Homo sapiens: one gene and its partners. The protein of the gene in region 2 purifies or fractionates together with the protein of the main gene of each other region. This does not show direct contact. Each region holds a gene or a part of one and is shown on either strand. Other genes may lie near its edges.

What was found.
Region 1: the proteins of SMAD6 (region 2) and WWP1 purify together in Homo sapiens (affinity purification with western blotting; 3 studies listed by BioGRID, with this or other methods). This does not show direct contact.
Region 3: the proteins of SMAD6 (region 2) and BMPR1B purify together in Homo sapiens (affinity purification with western blotting; 2 studies listed by BioGRID). This does not show direct contact.

The regions. Positions count from the first base shown.
Region 1 is NC_000008.11:86,340,349-86,344,169, forward strand, and holds the start of WWP1 (NEDD4-like E3 ubiquitin-protein ligase WWP1), read left to right. Parts: upstream 1-2,198; 5' UTR 2,199-2,582; exon of another isoform or gene 2,583-2,928; intron 2,929-3,241; exon of another isoform or gene 3,242-3,312; intron 3,313-3,821. UniProt on the Homo sapiens protein: E3 ubiquitin-protein ligase which accepts ubiquitin from an E2 ubiquitin-conjugating enzyme in the form of a thioester and then directly transfers the ubiquitin to targeted substrates.
Region 2 is NC_000015.10:66,700,331-66,703,930, forward strand, and holds the start of SMAD6 (mothers against decapentaplegic homolog 6), read left to right. Parts: upstream 1-1,905; 5' UTR 1,906-2,928; coding exon 2,929-3,600. UniProt on the Homo sapiens protein: Transforming growth factor-beta superfamily receptors signaling occurs through the Smad family of intracellular mediators. SMAD6 is an inhibitory Smad (i-Smad) that negatively regulates signaling downstream of type I transforming growth factor-beta.
Region 3 is NC_000004.12:94,760,901-94,764,721, forward strand, and holds part of BMPR1B (bone morphogenetic protein receptor type-1B isoform b precursor), read left to right. Parts: intron 1-3,821. UniProt on the Homo sapiens protein: On ligand binding, forms a receptor complex consisting of two type II and two type I transmembrane serine/threonine kinases.

The DNA of each region.
Region 1 (3,821 bases), on a different chromosome or scaffold from region 2:
GTGTTAAGTAGCTCTATGCGTGTTATTTATAGCAATTTATATATATTTTTTAATACAACATGTGGAAGCACTATATTAATTTTCTAGTTGAGACACAATTAGATTAAGCAATTGGCCAAATCTCTCAGCTCATAGGCAGCAGGAGGGTCAGGTTATCCATTAGGCACAGTAGACACAGTGCCTCAGGCTTATAACACTTTCGGGGGCCCATAAAAATGTTTTAATTTCTTTTAAAATCAGAAGGCAAAAAATTGAATATTTAGGTCAAAGAAAATATTTTAATGTATAATGTTAATATCTTTTTCTTCATACCAATGCAGTAATAAAATATATTTTGTAGTATTATTTTATGGAAGATGAGGCCCACACAGGTATAAGCACCTAGGGCCTGTGAAAGTCAGAATGTGGCACTGGGTGGCAGAGCTGTGTTTTGATGCTGGGCGATGTGATACCTGAGCCTATGCTCTTTCTGGAAGGTAGTTGCCAATATGTTTCAAAAGGGCTAAACTTGTTCATACTTTTTTATTACTTTTAATAATTTATCTAAGACAGTTAATAAGGACATGAACAATGGTTATGGAATACTATTTATAATATTGTTCATTTGAAACCAAACAGTCAATAACAAAAGGCTGGTTCAATATTGGGTGTCAGCTTGAGGACTAGGTGAGTACTAAGAGCTTCTGAACGGGGAGGAAATTGAGCAATGAGGGGAGCTGAAAGTGAGACACAGAGCAGGAAGAGGAGGCCTGCATGCATTCTGGAGAAGGAGTCCAGATCCCTGCTGGGGAATACCTACGGAATTTCTGAGGACGTGTTTGTAAGCACATTATTGCATCTATTTAAAGGGACCAGACAGCAAAAGCAAAAAGATGAAGAAAATCTTAGTACATGTTTAAAGCAGAGATGAGTGGGCACATATGGGGCACTGTGAAGAGTTTTTCATAACAGGAGAGATAGAGCATGTGAGCATCAAAGGAACCTTGAATATCACGTTAATCTTTGTCAGGAGAGCTCCGAAAAGCCAAAGAATGATTTTAAGCAGTGGAATGACACAGATGTATATTTTCGAATGATCTTTGTGGATATAATGTGCACCAATTTCAACTATGAAGCCAGAGGACAAGAACTAATGCATGGAGGTAGGCGGGAATGTGCATTGTTCAGTCAAGAGATACTTGTTGAATTCTGTACACACTCATGAAGTGTTGGGGTTGTTTTTGGTACACAGTTCTTTCAAAAAGCTCAGTTAAAATGGAAGGGGAGAGAGAACCAGAGGTTTTAAAATCAAGGGAAAATTTAGGACCTAATCTTAAAACGTGATTATGCTGAGGAGTTGTAGGCAGTGGAGAGGGTGAAGTTAAAGATGTGCCAAGGACCGCCCACAGTGGGGAGCAGGCAGTGGAGAGGAGCAGGGACATCTAGCCTCCGAGATAGAAGGAAAACTAGTAAGTCTGGGTGTGGACGTAGATATAATCTATGGGGGTTGGTCAGGTGGTTGGGCAAAAGCTGTAGAAATCCATGCCTGAAGGCTTCTGCTTCTCTGAAGTAGAAACCGGGTCACCTGGTAAGCAATGTGGTCCCACTGACTTCTATTTGCACATTGGCCTTTCTTCTAAAAGCAATACACATAACCAACAGTACTTTTCTAAACTAGTTGACTTTTCTGTAAAATGCAGACAGTAGACACTACTTTGTCAGATTGTTGTGTGCGTTAATTGTGCGGACACGTATACTCGGTCAATAAGTATCTGCTTTATCACCGGGCTGATGTGAGTGAGGACTAGGTGGTGGGGCTTCCACAGATGAACGTTTTGATTAATAAAAAATGGACTGAAAGTCTTCGGGTATGACCAATGGCTAAATGCAATTATTTACTCTTGCAATGTGTTCGAGGTCACCCAGCTAGGTCAAGGAGTATTTATGGACAGCCTACTTTTGCCCCCGGACCTTAAGAAGTCCTGCTCCGGGATCAGCCGCCGACCGGAAAGTCAAATTAGCAGTGCCCAGCGCGAGCTTAGAGCAGCCTCTTCCCAAATCTCAGCGGCGGCCCCGCCCCTTCCACACGTTCAGGCCCCGCCCCTCCCTACTATTGGCTGTCCGTCCCCCTCCGCTAGACTGCTCGGAAGACCCGGAGGAGCGGAGTTTTCCTAAGGCAGCATCCGAGCGCCCTCGCTGCGCATGCTCGGGGGAGGCGGATTCCGGGTCCGGAGTTGGAGGCTTTGGGCGGCCGCGGCGTAGCGCGCGGTGCCGGGGCCGGCGGGGAGGCGCGCGCTTAGGGCGCGGCGCCGGCGACGCGGCCACGCGGCGCGCTCCCGAGGAAGGGAGGTGTGGGGTCGGCTGGGGGTGGCGCGTGGACGGGGTGGGGGTGGGGGGAGGGTCGGGTGTCGGCGAGCTCCGCGTGCGGGTTCCGAGTGGCTGCTGGCGGCCTGGGCTGCCGGGGCCGACGCCTGGGTGGCTGCTGCCGCCGCGCCTGCTGCGAGATGGCGATCTTGGGCGCGGAAGGGTGAGGGCGCCCGCCGCAGGAGGAGGTGCCGCTGCCGTGGCCGCCCGGCTGCCGGGAGCCGACAGCTTCGCGCCGGGTAAGGACGGCGCGGCGCGGGGCTGGGGGTGCGAATGGGCAGGGCGGGAGGGGGCACGGGCCCTGAGCCTTGGCCGCGGTGCTGGGCGCCCGGCGCCGTCCGCCCCCGGGCTGGACCCTCCTAGGACCCGTCGGGGGACGGTCCGCCCTACCTTGGCTACCTTCTCCAGCCCGGGAGTCGGGAGTTTTCTGGGGTGGGGTCACGGGTCTTGCCCGGAGTTCGCCCTGGCAAAGGCCTGTGCCAGTGATCCTGGAGCGGAGCGAAGTGTTTCCGTGACTCTGCAGCCGCAGTTCTTAGGCTTCCTTAGCCTTCTCTTCGCCTTCCTCCACCTTTCCCTAACACCTCCCTGAAAACACAAATACATGGACTCATTGCCCGTTCCCTGACTTTCACCCCAATTTCAGCGTTGCAAACCAAGGACTCCAGCTTTGGAACGTCTTTTTCTGACATGTTTTTATCACTCTCCGTTCTTCACCGACTCTGCAGCTCCCCATCCCCCGCCCCCCCAGCGCAACCCCCACCTCCACCTTTTGTGACCTGGTAGGTTCCAGTGACCTTGCAGATTTTACCAGTCCTTATCTTGTCTGTGACTTACAGACTCTCCTTTCATCTTCGTGTTCTTTTTTTAAAAAAATTTAATTTTGTAGTTTGCTCCTTACCTTTACGACCTTTAAATGATCAGTCTTGTTCACAGTCCTTTCTTTGCTCTGCCGATTTGGAGTTTTCTCTGCTGTGGTAAATATATGAAACCTTCATTACCAAAGAAGAGTAGTGTCTGTTATAATTTTGACATTTTTACTCTTTCAGAATAAAATATTTTCCAGGGGCTTGATTTTGCCTTCTTTTTCTATTTGATAAGTTTAACAAATTTTTTTCTGTGTGTGTGTAGGTTAATGTGGAACAAGATTTTGTGTTTCTGCTTTAAAATGTTACTGGTAATAGTAGTGGGAAAAAAAATCATGTCCAAAATTATCTTTGTTTTCCCCGTTTGGTGTTTTTACCTGAAATAGTTGGTTTACAGTTACCTGCATTTTTTTTTTTTAACAAGAGTTCATGTTTATGTGTAAATCCACTTTACCTGCCTCACCAAATCTGTGTGTATTATACAAGCAAAATGCACCTTTTAAAGAAGAAAGTCGTTCTTTTATTGTGTGACTTGTTTTTAGCCATCAAGTAGTAAATTAGCTGCAACTAGAAATGATCATTTTTCATAAATGGTTAGTATTTTAAAAAATGGAA
Region 2 (3,600 bases):
TGCCCATAGTAACGACTCAATACGCACGAACTATTATTATTGTAATACACAGTCAAAGATAATCCACAAAGAGCATACACGGGGATAAAAGAAAATACACTGAGTTTCTGTTTGTATTTTAAGATGTATTAATTTCCCCATGGGCGAAAAGTGACTGAAAGGGGCCACAAGACAGGCTTCTGGGGTGCAGGTCAGGTTGCTTTTTGGGTGCTGGTGACATCATGTGTGTTTGTTCACGTGTGAAAATTCATCCTGCTGTTCGCTTGCGATTTGTGCATTTAACGTGCACTATCTCCAGGGACCTTCGTGGTTCTGTGAAGCACGAAGGGCAAGCATCCTCATCCGCGGTTTCAAACAAGAAACTGAGGCTAGGACCGCTACTTTAATTTGGCCAAAGTAGTAGGGGATGGGTGTGAGGAAGTGTCTCAGTCCGATCTTTCTTTCGGGGAGCAACGGCCACTCTCAGAGAGCGCAGCGCGAACAGTACCTGGTTCCAGGTAAAGCTCAGCAAAGGGTTCTGAATCCTCCTTGCAAATGCCACCCTTCCCCCAGCGCACACAGACTCTGGGCACGGCCGGGGGTTCGCACCGCCGCGCACTCCCCAGGCTAGCTCCACGCGTGGTCACTCTCCAGGGAGACCCGCCCGCCGGCGCCCCGCGGTCACCGCGGGGGAATGGCGCCCAGCCCCGGGCCAATGAGAGTAGCGGAATTTCTTTCATTCAGCGCGGGGCCAGGCTCCTGCCCGGAAAGGGGCGGGGCGCCGCGCCGGGGGTGGGGCCGCCGCGCGCGGGGGGAGAGGGCGGGGCCGGCCCCTCTGCCTGGCCAATCGGCGCCGCGCCCGGGGGGGGAGGGGGGCCCAGGCCTTTTTTCCCCTCCGCGCGGGACCAATCCCGACTTTACAAGCTTGAACTTTTGCCACCCTCGGACTAGCGAGCGCGCCCGAGGAGGTACCCCGCCGCGCCGGCTCCAGGGGCAGGAGCGGCCTTAACCCTTCCCGCGCCGGGCGTCAGGCTGCTGCCGCCGCGCCCCCGATCCCGCCCCCAACCCACCCCCATTTTCGCGTGGAAACCTCTCTAGGGAAAGCGTGATCCCTCACCTACAGCCCTCTCCGAGGTGCGGAGAGTAAACTTGAGAAGGGAGAGGAAGCACCCGGCCTGGAGGGGGCCCGGCCGGCCGGCGGCCCGCCTCGCTCCAAGGGAGGGCCGTGGCGACCGAGAGGAGCCAGCGAGTAGACACTCCCCGCCTCTACCCCACCCTCTCCATCTCCCCACTCCGGGCGAGCCTGGAGCCACCGTACGCAAAGCGTCCTGAGCTCCCTGTTTGGCCCGGCAGAGCGACCCCCGACTTTGTGCAAGGAGCGTAGAGCCCCTAGTGCAGTCACGGAAGATCCGCTACCCCAACATATCCGCCGCCCCCTGCTCCTCAGAGGCTCAACCCTGGAAGGCACACATGCACACCCATTTTTATTAGCCTACCCTAGGATGGGGGTTTGGAACAACTTTAAAGTGCAAAGTGTGTTTGTAAGTTTGTGCACAAGCCAGGGAGAGGCAAAGCGCCCCGTTTGCGTCCGAGTCTCAGTGGGTCCGCCGAGCCTTGCGCGCCTGCTCGTGGCTCGTGTAACCCTGTGTGTGTGTGTGTGTGTGTCCGCGCGCGCGTGTGTGCTCGCTCGCATCCGTGCTCTGGGCGCAACGCGAGGCAGAAAGCGGGCCGCGGGCGCTGTCAGGCCCTGGGCGGGGGTGCCGGGGTGGTGTGGGGCGGGGGCCCGAGCTCGGCCCGCCCCGGGAGCCGGCCCCTTGGAGCCTCCGGCCCTGCAATGGGACGTGTTCTCCTTTAAGAGTTAAGAAACTTGAAACCTTGTTTGCGCAACAATCAGCGCCGCGGAGCCGCCAAAGTGTCTAGACTGGCATATGATGGGAGGCAGCCAATGACTCCGCGGCGCTCCTCCGGGGGCCCTCAGTGTGCGTTTGAGGAGAACAAAAAAGAGAGAGAGAGCCGAGCGGGGGAGCGATCGAGGGAGCTGAGCCGAGAGAAAGAGCCGCCGGGCGCTGCCTCGCCAGACCTCGCTGGGACCCCGGGGCCACCGGGAGGCACTTTTGTGGAGGGGGGAGGGGGGGCGACCTCGGCAGCCTCGGCGCACGAAGCGTCCGAGGGCAGCGTGGGGCGGGCTGCGACCTCTGCATCGGTGGACTGCATTTTTAATTAAGGATTCCCAGCAGCTCTTTGGGATTTTTACAGCTTCCACTCATGTGTTGACACCCGCGTCCAGGAGAAACTCGCTCCAAGTGCATCTAGCGCCTGGGACCTGAGACGGCGTTGGCCTTTCGTGCATGCAAATCCAGGGATTTAGGTTTTGTTTGGGATTTCCTTTTCTTTCTTTCCTTTTTTTTTTCTTTTTGCAGGGAGTAAGAAGGGAGCTGGGGGTATCAACAAGCCTGCCTTTCGGATCCTGCGGGAAAAGCCCATGTAGTTAAGCGCTTTGGTTTAAAAAAAAGGCAAGGTAAAGGCAGGGCTTTCCAGACACATTTAGGGGTTCGCGCGAGCGCTTTGTGCTCATGGACCAGCCGCACAACTTTTGAAGGCTCGCCGGCCCATGTGGGGTCTTTCTGGCGGCGCGCCGCCTGCAGCCCCCCTAAAGCGCGGGGGCTGGAGTTGTTGAGCAGCCCCGCCGCTGTGGTCCATGTAGCCGCTGGCCGCGCGCGGACTGCGGCTCGGCGTGCGCGTGTTCCCGGCCGTCCCGCCTCGGCGAGCTCCCTCATGTTGTCGCCCTGCGGCGCCCCTTCGACGACAGGCTGTGCGCGGTCTGCACGGCGCTCCGCGGCGGAGCTTCATGTGGGGCTGCGACCCGCGCAGCCGGCGCCTCGCTGAGGGAACGGACCCCCGGTAACCGGAGACCGCCTCCCCCCCACCCCTGGCGCCAAAGGATATCGTATGTTCAGGTCCAAACGCTCGGGGCTGGTGCGGCGACTTTGGCGAAGTCGTGTGGTCCCCGACCGGGAGGAAGGCGGCAGCGGCGGCGGCGGTGGCGGCGACGAGGATGGGAGCTTGGGCAGCCGAGCTGAGCCGGCCCCGCGGGCAAGAGAGGGCGGAGGCTGCGGCCGCTCCGAAGTCCGCCCGGTAGCCCCGCGGCGGCCCCGGGACGCAGTGGGACAGCGAGGCGCCCAGGGCGCGGGGAGGCGCCGGCGCGCAGGGGGCCCCCCGAGGCCCATGTCGGAGCCAGGGGCCGGCGCTGGGAGCTCCCTGCTGGACGTGGCGGAGCCGGGAGGCCCGGGCTGGCTGCCCGAGAGTGACTGCGAGACGGTGACCTGCTGTCTCTTTTCGGAGCGGGACGCCGCCGGCGCGCCCCGGGACGCCAGCGACCCCCTGGCCGGGGCGGCCCTGGAGCCGGCGGGCGGCGGGCGGAGTCGCGAAGCGCGCTCGCGGCTGCTGCTGCTGGAGCAGGAACTCAAAACCGTCACGTACTCGCTGCTGAAGCGGCTCAAGGAGCGCTCGCTGGACACGCTGCTGGAGGCGGTGGAGTCCCGCGGCGGCGTGCCGGGCGGCTGCGTGCTGGTGCCGCGCGCCGACCTCCGCCTGGGCGGCCAGCCCGCGCCGCCGCAGCTG
Region 3 (3,821 bases), on a different chromosome or scaffold from region 2:
AGTGTAATAGCAGATCATAGACTTAGGATTGAAAGAGTCTTAGCATGTCATCACACACATTAATAATATTAAAGATGAAGAGGATGAGGCCCAGAGAGTTTGAAAAACCATGCTCAGAAATAGAAAGTGAGGCTAGGATGGCTATGGAATTGAGACTTTACTTTTTTCACGGTGCCACAATTCTTTTCACTGGACTCATGTTTGACTTCTTTCACTAGAAGTGGGTAAATATGTCTATAATTAGAAGCTGTAAGTTTTACTCTAAACTCTGAAGATTTCTTTTCATGTCATCCAATAAAAGCCGTGCATGAAATGTATCACTTTGCAATAACTGATAATCATTTCTGATGCATGTAAGCATGGAGGTAACACCGATCTTTAAGAACCTTGACTCCTAAATTATTTCTATGTGGTAGGCATTGTTCTGGGTGATAACTGTGTTGGGCAGAATTACTATTTCTTACCTGCAAAGAAGATTTAAGCTCTCTGGACTTACATTTTCCGCTGTATAATTCTGTGTGTGTGTGTGTGTGTGTGTGTGTGTGTGTGTGTGTGTGTGTGTTGAAGGGGGTTAGGGAGAAGAAAAAGGAAGTTTGGACCAGATTAGTGGTTCTTTTTGAAGTTTTCTTCAGAGACTACCAGTTTAACTCCCAGAACAACTGCAAATTCATCTGTTTTACATATCAGACTTCCTGGTAAGCTTTTGTTTTAAAAAAGGCTAACACAGCTTTAAAAAAACTTGAAGACCACTTTACTTGTTGTCCTCCAGTCCCTCTTCCAGTTCTTGAATTTCATAATCAAGATCATTTTTAGCTTTTAAATATGGGTATTCAGAGGATGGTTGGTGAAAGTATTAAAGACAGAAGGAAAAACTGATTTTGCCTTAGAGATACTATTAATAATTTCAGGTTTCCATATGCTGAATTTTATATGATGGCAGAAACTGAAGTAGAATTGTTGAGATATGTATAGGCAGGCCAGAATTCAGGGAAAGGAGGGGTTGCGGCTAGAAAGGTAGATTAAAAAGTCGCTTATATGACTTAATAACTTAAATTGAGTGAAAATAAAACTTTTTAGGCATAGAGTACAGAGAGAAGCCAAGATTTAGGAGTAGACAAAAAGGACATTTTGTTATGTTATTTCTGGGTATTTTTAAAGCCCATCACAGTGGTAAGAAGGGATAATGTATAATTTACATCAGGCAATAATTTGTTTTCATGATGTTCAGGACATCCACTTACATGCCAATATTCTAATTACATTCATTTTTACTTAAATGTTTGAATGCCTACTCTGTGTGTGGCACTGTTATACACTGTGGGGACACTGTGACTATAAGAGACACAGATCCTTGCTGTCATTGAACTTGTAGAGAGTGAAAACACAATCAGCTATCCACAAACACATGAATAAGATTATTTCCAATAGTGAAATTTGCCATTAGGAAAACAAGACAGGGTGATAAGACAGCATGTGACTGGGCTATTTTATATGAGGTGGTCAAGGAAGGCCTCTGTAAGGATATTCTTGAGTAACAAGAAAGAGCCAACCCCGTGAAGATCTGAAAGAACTTCCTATCAGAGGACGCACTAGGGTTGTCTCTAAAAGTAGCAAGCTAGGCACTCACTGGCCAGGGAGGCTGGACTCAGGCAATTAGAGGAAGTGATAGGAATGAGGTCAGAGAGGTGGCGAGGTTCGTAGTATAAAATATGTATTTTATTCAAAGTACATTCTGTTGAACACCCTGGAGGATTTTAAACAGAGAAGTGAACAAATATGATTTAGCATGTCTGTATATAGTGTGAGCAAGAGTACCTGAATAAGGCCATGTGGGTGGCTATGAAAATGATGTAGCTGAGAGTTTGTTGGCTTGGCCAAGGGTGGAACCTTGAGAGATTGATCAGACATTGTTCTTATCGTGGAATAGAAGAATCATGGAGTTGAATCATCAGTTTTTGTTTTTTTTTTTTTGCGGGGCTGGGGGCTGGGGGTGTGCCAGGATCTACATTGCAGCAATTCACTGGTTCAATAGTTACTTTTACTTTTGAATTTCAGACCTCAGCACCTTCTTAGAGTTCCCAGATACCACTTCTTTACTTCACCTCAAATATCTCATGGGCTGCAAGCTTCTTCCACGTGAGAGCCTATAGTATGTCCTAGGAAGTGTTGCAGTAAGGTTCTTAGTGCTAGAGATGATTCCTGGACTACACTGAGACGCTTGGTTCTTTCTGAAAAGCAGAGTGGTGAGCATCCTTGAATGAGCATCTCTTCATTTTCAGTAAAGTGTGTCAGTATAAAAAAAGGGAAGTGAGGCAGAATTCCTCTAATTAGGTCTGAGTGTCATTTTCCTCTAACCCTCAGCTTTGGAAACTTTGGATGCTTCTTGAAAGAATTCATTATAAAGTCTGCATTGTTAGATCGGGATGTTACACATCATTGTACTCCCGCCCCTTGCAAAGTGCTAGGACATAGTAGGCATTCAGTAAATAGTTGTGCAGTGCTGTTGGATGCACTCCTTTAGAGGCCAGTAGTTTTGATTCAGCCAATTTTATTTTTTCCTGTCTTTCAACAAGGATATGGCTGCATGTGGCGTCAGCTTTGGAAGATATTAAGTAGCAAGTTTGGAAATGAATTTTCTGGAGATTGTATTTACTTATCGGCTAAAGGAAAAAAAAGATACAATCCAGTATATCTGTTTATAACGTTTCTTGCCTGGCTGTCTTGAGATAAACATTTTAGTCATTTTTATAGCAGTTAGATAGATATGAACTTAAACAAGTACAGACACATCTGTCACTAGTTAATTTGATGATTTACGAATGTAAAATGTTTCCAAGGAAGTCTGTAATGATGTTGCCTTTGTCTAAATTAATCTCTTGATAGAAATCAGTGAATTTTATCTAACTAGTACACTTTATGACCATCTATAAAATGTATTAAATTATCATCAATTCTTTTTTCTGAAACTAGCTACTTTTCTGTTTTCCAATACACATTTAGCCATGATAGTCCACATAATGGAGGATTGTCCTGAAATCCTTCCCTTTATTATGGAACGTGGTGCAGTGCTCAGATGGGCTTGCAGACAGTTGTGGCATCATTTCATTTTTATGTATCTAGTAATTTTCTTCCACTGTTTCTTTTGATCTTCTTCAATTTGTCAAGAGTTTCTTCTGTATCTGAATATTCTGTTTTGCCCCATTTTGCCAAAACTGTTCTTATTACCATTGGCTTCTATGTCAGATATATTTTGGTTGCCACTCCAGAACCACTCTCAGCCCTTCTACCTCATGCTGTCTGCAGGGAAAATAACCTGGATGAACAACTTTGACTTCCAAAAAACGTAGGTCACTGGGGAGCCACAGCAGAGAGTAGAGGGAGGGTGGGGAGTGAGGGTATTTATTTCCTTGGCTCCCTTTTTGTGAGATCAGTTTGGGCTGCCTGTATTCCTGCACTGAAAGTCATTGCTCTTCCCAAGGTATTCTTCTCTATATAACTCTTTCTTTCCAGATTCTGGTAATCTCGAATAACTTCCCTGCTTTTGCTAACCTGGATTTACTGCAATACCCTTGGGGTTCTTTTCCACTACTGCCCACACCCTGTTACATTGTCTGTTTATAAATAAATTCCCTCAGCTTATCAGGAGCTGTGTCAATTAAAGTCCTATTTTCTGTTGATTCAGCTTCTGAAAGCCTGCTCTTTGGAGTCTTCTTGGATTGATAAGAACAGTCGTACTCCCTTACCTGTTTTGGACATCTGCTTTCCACCCCAAATTATATGCTTCTGTCCATGAAACCTAAATTCTTATATAAATACTGTCA